Linked DNA regions of Homo sapiens. The protein of the gene in region 1 interacts with the protein of each later gene in a pairwise test. Each region holds a gene or a part of one and is shown on either strand. Other genes may lie near its edges.

Region 1 (5,218 bases):
TTCTTCTCCATCCTCAATTTTGCCACTTTCATGTGAATGTTAGTCAATTCGGTGGGCAATTTTTGGACATGAACCAGAAAGCTGAAAGCTGAGGCTGACACGGACTGTAGGTGCTTTTTGTTCAGGTGGATTCGAAGGAGTTAGAGATGTGATTTCCCATTGCTGTTAGTTTTAGAACTATACCCGTGAAGCATGACTTATTGTAAGATGTTGGCTGAAAGCATGAACTTGCAGAACTCCCTCGGAGACGCAGGTTGCAGTGGACATTGGGATTGTTGCTTGAAAAATTAAAATTTGAATATTTTCTCTCTCATTTGCATCATACAGCTCTACCTAGGATTGTACAGTTTACCATAAAATTTACTTCATGAAAGTGGGAATCACTGAACATGTAGAAGACAAGGAACATATTGTTAACTCCTGATTCTTAACTTTATTCAACTGGACTCAGAATTGTAGGGATAATATGAATGCAGGAGGAAACATTCTGTCAGGCGGTATGACTGGACAGACTTTGAATATACTCTAAAAGTGGACAGAAAATTTACGAAAATCTTAGATTTTGTTTAGAATGAGAAAATATACAATTAGAATTATTTTAGAAATAGTAGGAAGTATTGCAGAAGTCAATACACAAATGTGCCAGGCAGAGGTGGTTTTCTCTGTTTGACTCTCAACCAACTTCAGATCTATGACATTATTCTGATCACTGGCTCCATCATACATATTCACCACTTGAGATTCATAACATATCAATAGTTATTTCATAAATATAGAAATGAAATAATTTTATTTTTGACAGACTGGATGGAATGAGTGTGTAATGATTGATAAAGGTTGTAAATTTTAAATGCAAGATGACGCTTACGTTCTGTAAACCATTAGTAATACATGCTGTAATATAGAATTAGTGGAACATTTTGATTAATCTTTCCCTAGAAGTGACTGAAATATTTTTGTGCATATTTGAGAAAGGGAACTTTCCTTTTATTAATTGTCAATTTAGAGAAACTATGCTTAAGCTGGTCTTTTGCATTGCTAATGTGACATGTACCCAACTTTTCATTAATTTGTATTTCCATTTTTAAATTGCATATTCTATGTTTTGTAGTGTTTGGATTGTTAATGAAAAAATATTATATGTTCGTTATTCCTTGTATTATTGCCACTTATCTTTTGCTTGATAAAAATGCGTTGTTCTTTTTTCTTTTGGAGGGACAAGATGAAAATATATAATTTGAATTGATTAAAATTGGTCGTTACTAAAATAGTATAGTAACCACAAGTGATTGGCTTATAAATGAAGTAGAAATGCTTTTTAATATTCCAAAATAGAGTTCCTTTTGATCTGTTGGTGCTGAGCCTTGGTTAAACCAGGGAGAAGGGGAGCAGAAAGGAAACGTTGTTACTGATGAGTACCACAGACTCATCTTAAAAAAAACTCTCATTATGGTGATCATAGAATTGACCATCCAAACTGGGACACTCTTGAGAGTAAATGGAGGGCATTATTAATAATTATCTTGTAATGAACTTAAATCTGGACTGTTCCAGGCAAACCAGACTTATCTTGCAATATGAGAATGCTGACACAATGCAGGAAAGCCAGTTTCCCTTTTGTTGATCTACTTGACCAAGCAAAGGGGCTGAAAAACTGAATAAGGAAACAACTTTATAAGAGAAACAGTGGTCTTCAATCTTTTAAAGACATGAAATCCTATATGGCATTCTGTCTCAGTGAGTCAGTTAACAAATACGTATGTGCAACCCTTCTGCTAGTAGTGCACATAAGTGATTATCCCTGCCAGGTATCGAGTTGGAATATCCAGTTATTTCATGTCACACATCGGCACGTATGATGGTGGTTTGGTCAGATGGATAATACAGCAGACACACTTAGAACACTCACTGCACTGGTGGCTGTTCATTTTGAGGAACTCCAAAGTCAATTCAAGGAAATAAGGAATGACCTGGAACAGGCCTTAGAAACAATTGATTTATTCCAATAGTTAACCACTGGCTGGCTCCCAACTCTAGGTGATAGGCATCTAATTGAGACATGTGTGAGTCAATAGCCATCGGGGTCCTTTTTGGTGAGAAGAAATAAGACATTTTCTCCCTTTTAAAGATCATCTCTTCAGAGCTGCATGGTAAATTTGAATTTCCCCATTGTTCTCTAGAGCTAGGTCAAAAAAACAACTGTTTCTTTTCTTATTCCACTATTAATAAATTGAAAGCTTGCTGTACAAAGGCAACAGCAACTTAAAAAAGAAAATCTGGACAATAGATGTGGACTCCAAGGGGCCACTGCCATCCCTTCCTGTGTGCTCTTTTTGACAAGTAAATCACTCCAGTTAGCTGATGTCCTGAAATGACATTTGTACCTGAGGCAATTCTTATTAGAGCTTACTCAGGACTTTTCAAACATCAGGACACACATAGCAATTTGGATGTTGTAAAACTACGTGTTACATTTGGAGAGGTCTTGTTGAGAAGGCAAAATTTTCTAAATATTTTGATATCAATTTGGGTAAAGAAAGGAATACTTTTGTTAGAATGAGAATTAAAGAGAAAACAAAAGAATCTTGGCAAAATTTTCCCTCTGAAATTACAAACTTTAGGAACTTTTCCAGATGTATCGAATTTAATTTGACATTGATGTCACTCTTCATACCAAGTGAATCTATTCTCATGAACTTTGAACCCATGTTAATTTTGGACCCTATAACTAATTTCCTTTCTGTATCCCATGGTGGTCAAAGCAGTAAAGGAGTTTAGAGATACTTAGCAAATGCCATTCATATAGTATTGTTAGCCAAACTATTATTCCTTCCTTAGAAGTTGATGTATCAGAAAATTTATAAGTTATTTGTATTTATATATAAGTACATCAGAACTTGCCCACATGATAACTCATGTTTGCTTTAATAAGGAAAATATGTTATTTGAGGTTAATTATATGATAGTGAGGAACATTTTACAATTATTTACAGTGTTTGACATTAATTGCTGTCCTATGATACAGTAGTAATGTTAACAGAGAGTTTAATATGTTTAGCATTATCTTTATGGAATTTATATTCACCAATTTCAGGAAAACCAACCATAGAACTTTATAATAGGACAGTTATAACCTGACTGAACCAAATCCATCAGCATAATGACTGTGTGTTCTGAGAAATGCAAACAACTTTATGAAAGTGTGGTCATCTTGACCCCCAAAGAGCCACAGTAGCTGTCAATTATTGAGATTTTTAAATGGTAAATATTGCAAAAGTTAAACAAGGGTACCACAATATCATTTATAATTGATGTCAATATTAGTAGTCCACTTTATGCTTAAAATAAAATCATAAAAAATCAAGTTTTAAGGTTATATTTTTTAAAATAATGAATTTTCTATCTCTAGGCAACATGTCTTTATTATTCAAGCTGAATGTTTAAGAGAGATTTTGGTCTTAAAGGCTTCACATCATGAAAGTGTACATGCATATGCAAGTGTGAATTACGTGGTATGGATGTTTGCTTGTTTATTAACTAAAGATGTACAGCAAACTGCCCGTTTAGAGTCCTGTTAATATTGATGTCCTAACACTGGGTCTGCTTATGCTAGTTCAGTATTTGGTCTAGGCTTCATTTTGATATGACTGAATTGCAATCTATATTTTTAAAAAGAAAAATCAAAATACATTAGGGTTTACTTGGTTGTGGCAAACAAACAAAAAATGCTTTCAGTGTTGAAATATCTCTATTTTCCAAAGATGATAAACTTTCATCGTTCTTAGCCTACATTGTCATTTATATCACCAAATGAGTTTATAGATTAATGCAATAAACTTTCTAATAAAAAACTCTAGTGTTTCTTTCTATATCTGATTCTACTGTTGATTAATGAGAGAAAAAACCTTGTGCTCGTATGGAAAAAATAATATTTTTTCTTGTTCTTGAAGGACAGAGGCAACATTTTATTCATATTTGGATCCCTGGAACTCAGGTTAGGGGCTGATAGTCAAGTCTTCTGTAACTAGCTTTAGGTTATCTTATGTGGATTTGCTTTCTAAATCTCAGTGCCCATTAGTACTTTCATTTATGACTAAAACATCTTTGAAACATTTGCATTATAGCACTGCGGAGCAGGGATCAAACATGAGTAAAACATTGTTTCTTCTTTCAATAGCTGTTTCTTTACTGGGGCCCTGAATGCCAAGCACAGCTGGGGATGCAGAGACGTGTAAGGCATGAGCTGTTTTGGAGTCCTTCATTATTTAGTTAGGGAAATAAAGCATATGGCTGGCTGTGTGACTGGTTCTGTGGGTTAAGTTAGCCTCTTAAGGCCTTGGCTTCTATATTGCAATACATTGGAAGTAACAGTACAATAAATTTCATAGGGTTTGTGAGAATTTAATAACTTTATACATACAAAACACTTCAGTGCCTGGCATACACTAAGCACCTCGTAAATGTTAGCTGACATTGCTATTATGAAAAATTAGCTAATAATATGAACCAGTTTGCAATAACCAGATGAATGATGGGGCTAATAGATCAGAAGAGAGTATTTAATGAATATTATAGAAGCTATACATTTGAATGACCATATCCTGATCTATTTTTATACTAGCACAAAATTCCATACATATTTTATTTCTAGAGATGTAATTTAGGAAAGCAATAATATGTTTATATTTTCCAGTAACATGTTATCTAATTGGAATTAGGAATGCTTTTACAACATTTGGATGTGAGTTTCTGAGGAAAATGGTGACCTGGGAACATTCTAGAGAATATGACCATCCAGAAAAAGTCAAGGGCTGGTTTTGGCAACCAGAAGGGGTTCTGCATACAGGGAGGCATCAAGTCCTTGAAAGAATGTGCCAGTTGGGGCTAAAGATGTAAATGAGAGTTAATGCGAGGTGGAGAGGGTGCATGATGAGAGTCAGCTATCTTGGGTGGATACACAAAGACAAGGGAAGGTAGAAATGTTTCTGCTGTTTGCATTATGCGGCAATGAAAGAGGCAAACTGTTCCCCGGGTGATGGCACTTAGGAGAGGCAGTTTCCACATTGGGCTGAGGTCAACCTATCTCCACTTGGACTCGTGAACTGAGGCCTTCTGCCACTTACATCAGTAAAAGGGATAAGGCTGGGTTTGGTAGCTCATGCCTGTAATTCCAGCACTTTGGGAGGCTGAGGCAAGAGGACTGTTTGAGCCCAGGAGT
Region 2 (5,254 bases), on another chromosome or scaffold:
CTGGTAAACATGTTGGATCAAGTCTTCCTTCCAAATCAGTCAGTAGAAAATATGTTATACCTAAATAGTTTCATTACACTTCAAAAATTAACATTGAAAGCGTAATGCAATGATAGAATTTAGTAGGGGGAAATGAGTATTCTCCATATGTGGGGGTTCATGTAATACAGTTTAAATGCTTAACCTTCTGATGGTAATTTTCTGTCATGTCTTCTATAATTTTTTAAAGTTAATTATTTTTCCATCTACACATTCTATATATTTATTTATTAACTTTTATTTTAGGTTCAAGTGTACGTGTGCAGGTTTGTTATATAGGTAAATTGCATGTCACAGGAGTTTGTTGTACAGATGGTTTGGTCATCCAGATAATAAGCATAGTACCTGATAGGTAGTTTTTTGATCCTCACCCTCCTCCCACTCTCCACCCTCAAGTAGGTGTCAGTATCTGTTGTTCCCTTCTTTGTGTCCGTATGTCCTCGATGTTTCGCTCCCACTTGTGAGAACATGTGATATTTGGTTTTTTGTTCCTGTGTAAAGTTAAATTTGTTGGATTGTCATTATTGTAGATTAAAATTTTCAACAGTCATGAAGATAGATTTATTTTCCATTGAGTTTTGCTCTGATTTATCATATCTTTGCAGCATCCAGGTTATAGTATAATGGCTAATTGTCTCAATTGATTTTCCTCTTAGATGGGCCCTTCTGTTATCTCCTATTACCTATAAAGGAGAAGCTATTTGAATTGACTGTAGGTGAAACTGGGCGACATCTTCCTCTGATGGAAATGTGGGGAAATTAATTATAAAAGTTATTTCAGTCCAAGTTGCCATCTAACAACCTTAGATGTAGCTCCATGTGTTCTGACTAAACATTTAATTTTTATAATTTCCTTTGTAGCTTTTAGATGGGATGATAGAATTATTTAAAGATAAAAATATGGGCTCTGCTTGACGGTACTCCAATTTTGTATGCCTCAACATTTTAATATAGTTAATGAATGCTGGGTACTTCAGGATATAAGATTTGAAATCTAAAACTCAATGGATAATGTGGCTTAGGACTCTGATGTATGTTTTCCTAATTATCAAGTTAAAAGCATCTGCTATCATGTAATTCAAAATGAAACGTTATTGAAATACAGTGTTTATAGCAGCCTTGATATGAAAGAGATGTGTTTTATATGCTTTCTACAATGTTTGCTGCTGTAAAAAAAAAATTGGGACTTTTTCTGGAGATAAAACTATTTTAAAAATTGATCTTCTAATTACCTTCTTCTGATTGAAGAAATCAATATAGAAGTATAATGTTATTATAAAAAGTTAGAAAATAAAAGCTAAGTTAAGGCACTGTTTCTATTAACCTTGTAGAAATTCTTATAGCCTGTAACACTAGTGACCTTGTTAAATTAAAAGCTATATCCCTGCTACTTAGTGTGGTACCTACCACATAGGAGGTATTTAATGAGTATTTGTTAAATAGAAGATTAGAGTCAGCTAGGCAGCCTTTAAGATGACAGTAATACTTTTAGGCCACAACAGAATAGGCAGTGTGCTGCTCTAAGCCCTTTCATACATGATAGTTAATTTTTACAACAATTCTATGAGGTTTTACAAATGAAAAAAATAGAAACAGACAGAGCTTATATCCCCTAGGCCACAAAGATTATAAGCAATGGAATTTGAGCTCAAGTGTGACTAGCCAGCCCTCTAACACACATCCTTTTACCACACCACACTGCCTTCTTGCTTTATGTGAACTTCTTTGGATTATGTATGAAACTATTGACAAATGAGTATGCTACCTCTTATTAACTTTTTCATAGAGTTATCAGTGGCATCTAAATTATTACTTGTATAACTTTTAAAATCTAATACCAAATAGCTATAAGAATCTGTAGCAAATATCATCCTCAATGGTGAAACATCAAAAGTATTTCTTTTCTTTTCTCATTAGAAATAAAACAAGGTTGCCCACTGTTACCATTCTATTAAACATGGTAATAGTGTCTTAGACATGATATATAAAGAGAAAATTGATAAATTGTGCTGCATCAAAATTTAAAATTTGAGCTCTGTTAAAAGACACTGTTAAGAGAATGAAAAGACAATCTACAGGCTGGGAAAAAATATTTGCAAACCACATTTCCAACAAAAACTGGTATCTAGAGTCTATAAAGATTCTTAAAACTTAACAGTCAGAAGGCAAATAGCCTAATTTTACAAATGAGCAAATAGTAGGCCAGTGTGAGTTATCAAAGATCAGAGCCCAAGCAAGGTAAGGACATCTATGGTGGGGAGAGGTAACCACTAGTGATGGACGTTAAGCCCAAACAGGATGAAGATGGCATTCCTGTGAAGGGGCAGCCTGGAATGGGATGTAGGAGCCCAAGTAAGGTGAAGTATGTGTCCCTGTGTGAGTGCAGCCCCTATGGGCTGTCAGAACCCAAGCAGGTAGAGTGGAGCATCTGCCCAGGGAGTAAGGTTAGTGGTGGAGATGGGAGATGGGTCACATACAGTGGACTTGAGCAAGAAAGTAAATATATGAAGGGTAACAAAATACATTAAGGATAATGAAAACAAATTTTTAACTGTTGGAGAGGGGAATTACAGATACTGAAAGGAAGAAAACTAGAATGAACCATGTAGTTATTAGATTGGAATTGGATATATTTTTGTGAACTCATAGATTTCAATGTATTTAGGTAGATATAGAAGTAAAATTAAAGGTAAATGTGAAAAAAAAAATGAGCAAAAGACTTGAACAAACACTTAACCAAAGAGGATAGAGGGATGGCAAATAAGTACATGAAAAGTTATTGGACATCATTAGTCATTAGAGAAATGCAAATTAAAACCATGATGAGATACTAGTACCTACCCGTTAGAATGGCTAAAATAAAAAAAACACTGACAATACCAAGTACTGATAAGGACGCAGAGAGCTAATGCAACTCATTATTGCAAGGGCAAACAATAACCAGAACATCTCTGAAGAAGGACCAGACAGAAGTACTCTTCCTATTAAATTTCAAGGATAATTATAAAACTTCAGTAACTAAGACCATGTATTGGCCTGGGAATAGAAAAATGCACCATAGAACAAAATGCAGTGCCCAGAAACAGATACCTGCATATAAACTGTGTTTTATGATACTGTTGCTATGGGCAAAAGTTAGTGGTATTTGGACAATAAACTATACATGTGAGAAAAGGATGAATGCAGATCCCCACTTCATACCATTCACAAAAATTAATTCCTGATAGGCTAAGGACTTCACTATGAAAGATAAAGCCTTAAAACTTTTAGAAAAAGCATAAGAAATTATCTTTATGATCTTAGGAAGGATAAATACATACGTGGTAAAAATTTAAAGTAAAGCAAGGGAAAAATAACACAAAATTCCAGAAGAGTTAAATCTAGGGGAGAGAGAGAATGACTGGGAAGGGGCCCAATCACTTTTGAAGCCCTCCCAGGGCTTTAAAAATGCTAGTTATGTTCTATTATGTATAGATGTTTACTTTATTTTTTAACTAATTCCTATATTTCTTCTGTTTAGTTGTAATTGATTTCAAGGTAAAAAATTTAACTTGTATATTTTACACTTGTCTGAAAATTATGATTATTGACAAAGCAGCTACCTCCTTCCTGTACCACATCCAAATGACTTTATTTATTTTTTGTTTGTTTAAGACAAGATCTCCTCAGTAGCTGGGAATACAGACATGTGCCACGATGTCTGGCTGATTTTTGTATTTTTTATAGGGACGGGGTTTCACTATGTTGCCCAGGCCAGTCTCAAACTCCTGAACTCAAGTGATCCACCAACCTTGGCCTCCCAAAGTACTGGGATTACAGGCATGAGCCACTGTACCCAGCCAATAATTTGATTTTCTTATACCTGTGAAACATTAGTTTCCCACTAGTATCTGCTTAAAGGGCTGCGTTGTTAAGGTTGTGGTGAATGTAGTATATGGTACTTCAGTACTTTAATCTCTTTCTTTTTTTCAGTCACCCAGTGAAGTTTATTCTTGGAAGAGACCATCATCTTTGCATAAACGAAGTGGCACTGATACATCATTCTATAGAGGAAAGAAGAAAAGGGGGACTCCAAAACAAAGCAATTGTGTGACTCTTTTAGATACGAATCAGGTAGTGAGGATTTTACCCCCAGGAGAAGTCCCTCTAAAAGATATCTACCCAAAAGGTAAGAAGGAACTCACCAATTCCTAATTTACAAAGGTGGTTTAAAGTAGCTTCCTTTTGGTAGAGGATATTTAATTTATCTTTATCATTTCATACTTATAAAAATTGATCATTCCGACAAGTTTAGAAGTAACTAAAAAGACCTCTCCGTATTCAGAAAGTTCTTACTCATTTTCACAGTGTGTGGTTGTGGCCACTGCTGTTAGAGCTCATCTTCATTTATATTATAATATATGCAGTAACTTTACCTAAAAGATGTTTTCACAGAGCCTTTTAAAAAGTCTTAGTATATTAGGCATAGAAACTGAGGCCTGCCTTTTGTCTTAAACTCCTAAGACTGAAAGTCAGGGGCTTATCGTGCAGACTGATTCACTTAACAGCACTCTGAAAGTCAACTTATATTTATTACTGCATAAAATATCCAATTCCTGGGATGATCTCCTTTCCTTGTATAAATTCACTTACTCCTTAAAACCCCATCCTATTGTTAGCATGCTCTCTAATTTATACATGAAGATATTCTGACACAGAACTAAAATAACTGGCCCAGGATCACCCCACCAGTGGACAACAGTGCCCAGATTTGCACCACAATCTTCTAATCCCAAGTTTAGATCTATTCTTATTGAACCACACTGGCATTCATCATAACAGATAACTATGAAAAAGTTTGATCATTGATTAATTGACTTTTTTTTTTTATGTCACAGTGGTAGTGATATATTATCTTGTGTCTATATGCATTGTATTAGTGTGGACTTCACAAATATAATGCTAAATGTATTATAATAATCTGTAACAGGGTTTGAAAAGTTCTGATTATATGATAACATTTGGAATTAGTTTCTTCCCAGCTGAAACTCATGGAAAATAAATCACCATTTCCTTAAAATTTTTTTTGTGGTAGAAGAGGCAGATGAATAAACTGACAATTCTAGTACAGTATAATAAGATAGGAATATTCACAAGGTGATATATAAACACAAAGTAGAAGTTTACAATCCATTCTGGAGACTATGAGTTGACTCTTGAAAGATGAGAGTTAATC

Evidence for each region.
Region 2: the proteins of MEGF10 (region 1) and VWA8 interact in a two-hybrid assay, tested with the Homo sapiens proteins (one large-scale study listed by IntAct).

The regions. Positions count from the first base shown.
Region 1 is NC_000005.10:127,457,372-127,462,589, forward strand, and holds the end of MEGF10 (multiple epidermal growth factor-like domains protein 10 isoform a precursor), read left to right. Parts: 3' UTR 1-3,851; downstream 3,852-5,218. UniProt on the Homo sapiens protein: Membrane receptor involved in phagocytosis by macrophages and astrocytes of apoptotic cells. Receptor for C1q, an eat-me signal, that binds phosphatidylserine expressed on the surface of apoptotic cells. Cooperates with ABCA1 within the process of engulfment.
Region 2 is NC_000013.11:41,684,000-41,689,253, reverse strand, and holds part of VWA8 (von Willebrand factor A domain-containing protein 8 isoform a precursor), read left to right. Parts: intron 1-4,011; coding exon 4,012-4,207; intron 4,208-5,254. UniProt on the Homo sapiens protein: Exhibits ATPase activity in vitro.